Linked DNA regions of Homo sapiens: region 1 is linked to region 2. Evidence: fine-mapped expression QTL. Tissue or cell type: blood mononuclear cells. Region 2 holds a variant in brackets; the other region holds the start of a gene. All regions are shown on one strand. Distances are from middle to middle.

Evidence for each region. PIP is the estimated chance that this variant, and not a neighbour inherited with it, causes the effect.
Region 1: it holds the start of HS1BP3, and the variant in region 2 is fine-mapped to the expression of HS1BP3 in blood mononuclear cells (TOPMed, PIP 0.94).

The regions. Positions count from the first base shown.
Region 1 is chr2:20,649,952-20,652,630 of GRCh38, reverse strand. It overlaps HS1BP3 (HCLS1 binding protein 3), which reads left to right and starts at 1,533. Exons shown (of 7, transcript NM_022460.4): 1 at 1,533-1,599. The coding sequence starts at 1,568. LOC105373466 (a long non-coding RNA gene) reads right to left here and starts at 1,349. Exons shown (of 2, transcript XR_001739320.2): 1 at 1,279-1,349; 2 at 431-656. RefSeq lists enhancers at 1,115-1,852, 1,937-2,086, 2,107-2,186 and a silencer at 1,267-1,856.
Region 2 is chr2:20,620,230-20,622,908 of GRCh38, reverse strand. All of the region lies in intron 6 of HS1BP3 (HCLS1 binding protein 3), which reads left to right. Among named protein-coding and RNA genes, the nearest start is that of HS1BP3-IT1, 29 kb to the right of the region's middle. The variant G/A (reference allele first, on the strand shown) is at 1,124.

The sequences.
Region 1 (2,679 bases), 30 kb before region 2:
AAGCCTTTCCAGACCCCCACCCACTCCCCATGTAGGAGGGCAAAGAAGTCCACTGAAGGCATCTAAAGTGTCTTATTCACTGTGTTTCTGTCTGTTGGATAAATGTGAGTGCAATGGTGACTGCTCGACTGCCTGGCACTACACTCAGACTCCTGGAATGCTGAAGCCTATACTGCTTTCTGTCCAGACCCTGAACTCCCTTTCTCTAAAGTAGGGCATGCCAATTTAAACAAAACACGGAGGACCATTTGCAGCCATGAACACGGCCCTGCAGACGGACAGGCCGATGAGCAGCAGAGCAGACAGGGGTTCCCGCCATCATCCCAGCTCTTCACTGCAGCCTTCAAGGGTCTCCCTCAGAACTTTCATTCATTGTCATACTTCATTCATGATTGCTCATCTTGCCTATAAACAAATCTGAGACAAATAATAAGGCATATCAATGTCCGTATTTATTCAAGAGATACATTGGGGAAAGTCATTTTTCAAAATCTTTTACTGTAGGATTTCTTCACTAAAATCTGTAAAAACTGGTAGATATTGTTGGTGATGCTGGTGGCGGTGGTTGATAGGCTCAGGAAACATGGCTGACATCGCCCTGCCGTGAATTCTGGTATAGTTAAGCCCAGCTTCTCTTTCTTTTTGTCACTGGGGCTCTGGGTGGAGGGAGTAACAGAACAGGGGCAGCAGTTTGCACCTTCTGCTGGCCCTGTTTGCAGACTCAGCTTTTCTTTCCCTGGGCTACGTTGGCAGGTGATACGATCTCTCTGTTCCTCACCCCATGGAGAGGTGAATCTAAAATGAGTGGGTCTGTTAGGGTCTGCATGTCTGTACGTTCCCCTTCTGAGGGGAACTGGCTCCTGGACCCCGTTGCCCTGCTCCAGCTGGGGACCCAAGTGCAGCCATCCCAGGCAGGCCCGGCCCCGGGAGGCCTCCACCAGGGCTCTGCCAAGCAGCAGAGGCTGCCTCTCTAAAGATCCCCTGTCGGGAGAGTGCCTGCCATTTATGGAGCGGGCAGGCAGTAGGAACCAGATAGGCGAGCTAGCTGGAGGCAGCAAGCTCAAGGGGACTGGGCTGCTGCGTGGCGTTCACTGTGCAGCTTGAAGAAGACCCCACGAAGCCTGGACAGAGCCCCAGCTTGGTAAATATTTGTTGACCGATCGGTTGAATGAAATGGTCTTGGGGCAGAGGGGGAGTGGTTTTGTAATGGGGACTGGCGGCGGAAACAGCAGAGTCCCGTCTCTCTAACGGCTAAACTTTAGCGCAAAACAGACACACCGATTAAGGTTCACCGTGTGCCAGGGCCAGGCTGGGCTTCTTCTAGGTGGTTGCGGCGGGCGCGGCTCAGCCTGGGTGCTCCGGAAGCTCCGAGCAGCGCAGGCCGACGGCGACCGTGCGGGACCCGCCCAGCCGCGCTTCCGCCCCGCCTCTGGCCACAGGCGCGAACTGCGCGGCCGCTGCCACCAGGGGGCAGGCCAGGGCAGCGGGAGGCAGGGCGGGGACGCGGTGACGCGGGCACTGCCGGGTCCCGTGACTGCGCGCCCCGCCCGGAGTCCCCGCCGCCGTCATGCAGTCCCCGGCGGTGCTCGTCACCTCCAGGTGAGCCAGACCCCCGCGCCCCACACCGCACAGCTCGCAGTCCGGGGCGCCCGGGCGGAGAGGCGGGGGGAGGCCGCCGCCTCCTAGGCCAGGGACCTGGTGCAGGTCTCCCCAGCGCCCTCGGTGGCTTATCCGGGCTGGGCCCCTGCACCGCCCTGCAGGAGAGGTGGCGACCCCGATTTACAGATGAGGAAACCGAGGCCCTCTGGAGGGTAGAGAACTAGCCAAGGACAGCGGGAGCCCTGGGACTGACTGGTTCAGTGCAGGCGGGCGCAGTGGGGACTCTGCTCTCCTTTCCTACCGCCTTGGGTTCTTCTCTTTTGAGCCCGAAAATCTAGTTCCCCATCCTTTCAGAGCTCCCTGAGTCCCAGGCCCGGTGCTGGGCACTGGGGACAGAGGCGAATCAGACAAGCTCGCCCTGCAGGGGGCTGCAGCGGAGAGGGGGTGATGCCAGCAGCGGGTAGTAAGCTCAGGTTGCCATGGGAACACAGTACAGGGCAGGAACCCGGTTTCTGGGAGGATGAGTTTGATGAGAGACCAGGGAGAGGTCGTTGCTGCTTGCGAGGCAGCTCAGGAGAGCGCAAGTTACAGCAAAAGCCTTGGAGGGGTCCAGGCGGAGGATGCAGAATGGGTCGGCCCTGATCGAGACCTGGAGGACCCAGCCCAAGGTGGATCCTGGCAAGGCTGGGAGGCACGTGCTTTTACTTCTTTCCGCCTTTAAAACGCTGTAAAGTGATTTACTTCAAATATTTTCATACACTTCACCCTTGCTCTCCCTACACAAAGTCTTAGGCTAAGATGCCAATTTATGACATAAATGAACGTGTTACCCAGCCAACTGTTGATCTTCCAGTTGTAATCAGGAATTCCCCGTGACTTCAGGTCTAGAAAGGTATGATTCCTTTTGTAAACCCTGATGTCGGAGGCTGCTTGGTCTTTCATGATCAAGTGTGGTTACAGTTGTATCTTCATGGGCAGAAGAGGTTTCCCTACTGCCACTTACGTCACCTCCTCTCACCAAGCCTCAGTTTCCTTTTCTGTGAATTGGAGGTTTCAGATTGGCAGGCATGAGCAACGTCA
Region 2 (2,679 bases):
CCGCCAAGCCTGAGTCACCGTGACGGCTTCTGGTATTTACATGTCCCCAAGGCCCCTGGCATCTGTTCACTCTCATCCTGTGTCCTCGCTCCTGACATCCCAGCGGGCTGGAAGAAACCAGGATTGTTATTTTATTAGAGGGAAACCGAGGCACAGGGAAATGAAATACTAGAGTCTGCCTGCGGAGCAGCAGGGCCAGGCCGAGCATGTCTAGGAGTCCATGTGTCCCAGTGGGGTGGCTCTCGTGGGACCTTTCTGGCCTAGTTTATTCTAAATCCGTTACTTCCCAACCTGTGTTCTGCAGAACGTGGTACAGTGGGGTGGTCAAAGGCTATCTTCAAAGGGGCTCTGTGGCTGATGAATTGGGGAAATGCCACAAAAAGCAGGGCTCGTAGTGCGCGGGCCAGCACCACATGGCACTTCACGTTCTCATTCATCCCTGGGCCCCCCACTCTGTGGTGCCCCTTAGCATCCCGCAGAGCGCTTGGGGAGTCCCTGCTCAAAAAGTGTGGGTCCCGCACCCCCACCTTCACTTTAGCAGACATCTGCTAATGAAAGGATTAACTGCTTTTCTTTTTTTTAAATTCAGACAAATTCAAAAAGAGCCGTAACACTGGGATTAGCTTCTTGAGAGCAGGAACCACATTCATTCTTTGTGTCTGCCCTGTGACTATCCAGGGAGTAGTTGGACTTCCTCATAATAAAGAATGTTCTGATAGCCATTCATTCATTCATGCTTTCACCCCTTCGTTCATTCTGTCACTAGCCTCAGCCACCCTGAGGCCGCGTGGGGTGTACACTGAGCGGGTCGAGGCTAAGAAGGCTTTGTTCCTTCTGGCTGTGCAGCCACACCAGGGCAGGGCCTCTAGTCTAGATGTTTAGGTGAGTCTTGTCTTCCGCAGGAACCCAGGGAGAAGGAATGGGGCCAGGGTCTTAGAGCTCCCTTACCCCCCACTGGTTGACCTCACACCAGCTGGGCCTGGAGGAGAAAAGAGCTGGACCTTGCGCTAGTGAGAGCTAGTCCTAGTCATGACTCAGAAATAGGGTGCTTGGAAAAGGGGTGCCTTGCAGCCTCCTGTGTCCCAAGAGCAGCTATGCTGCCTCCCACCGTGGCTGACCACCC[G/A]TGTACACCACCCACCTGGGAGCAAATCCAGCTGCTGATTAGTTCCAAAGAGTCACTGCTTTGCCAAGCAGGCTAATCCTGAAATCTGACATAAGCCTCTAGCGGCTGCTTTATTTTCCAAAGGGCCCCTATTTGAGGATAATTCAGTCCCTTTGAGCTTTTCCCAGGTACCCTCAGCCTTCAATGGAGGCTGCATCATGCCAGTGGAGCTGGCACCTGCCCTGGGGGAGTCAAGGAAGGGCTGCCACTTGGAGGGAGCTCCGGAACATCTGACCTGAGGTGGCCAGGAGCAGACTGGCCATGAGTGACACCTCCTGAAATCACCTCTACCCCAAGACAGCTGGTCTGTCTATGAAGGCCCGGCTTGGGCCAGTCCCTCTGGGTTTGTTCAAGAAGGACACCTTTTATTCATTTCTCTGCCATCCAAACAGACTCTGAATTCTCTCTCTGGGGTTTGTGCCCCATCACAGGAGGTTGAGCCAGGAAGCAGGCAGGGTGTCCGGAGCTCCTTCCACAGCTGGCTCCAGGCAGGCATCCACCCCTGGGGGTGCTGTGCTGGACACCTCCATACTCACACAGGCTCTCTGGTAGTGCCAGGAGTTGTCCTGATCAGAGGTATCGCCTCTCTATCCCCACCCCTGCCCGGCCCTGCCCCAGGGCAAGAAGCCGCTGCTCATGAGCCTGCCTGGTTCTTCCTGTTCATTCTCATTCCCACCTCCAGACCTCTGCTGTCTGCTCCCTTCTTCAGAATTCTCTCCCCTATTCATGCCAGGCTCACCCTTCTGAAAAGACCCACCTTCCCAGGAGGCCTTCCCAGCCTGCTCTGGCCCAAGGGCTCACTCCCTTCTCTGGACTTCAACACCTTCTTTCCAGGCCTTTGCAATTATGTGGCCCCTGTCTGACTGGGCTGGGGGGTGTCCCTCATTGTAGGTGGAGGCACTGCTTTTCTGTGTCTTATGCCCACTTGCTCAGCCCCTGTGGCTGTCAGTAGACATCAGTACATACAGCCTTCCTGTACATTTGGAAACTACTTTCCTTGTGTTGTCTTATTTGATCCTTGTAAGAATCCCTGTGAGGATGGTAGAGCAAGTACAATCCCACTTTATAGAAGAGACTGAGGACCAGGGAGGAGGAGTGGCCTGAGGCTGCCTGATGGAGGAGTTGCAGGGTGAGGAACGGAAGCCAGTTCTCCTCCTGCAGTGCTGTGCTTCTGTGTACAGTTCCGTGCAGCAGTGCCAGTGACACTGTTACTCCTGCTTGTAGATGAGGAAGCCGAAGCTTGTAGAGACCAAGTGGGTGCTACAGGTCTTCTGCCTTCACTCACCTGATTCCAGCATGGCTGAGCGATAGACGTAGAGATGCCCGTTAGCACAAGGGAAAACCTCGCCGTGACACTGGAGTCTAGGTGCCCCAGCCAGGGGAACACACCCCAGAGAACCAGCCACATGCAGGCCAAGTCCTGTTCATCCTCACACTAGCTGTGGGTCTCAGGGCAAGGCCCTTTGCCTCTCTGCACCTCAGTATTCTCAGCTGTAAAACGGGGCTAATCTCTGCGA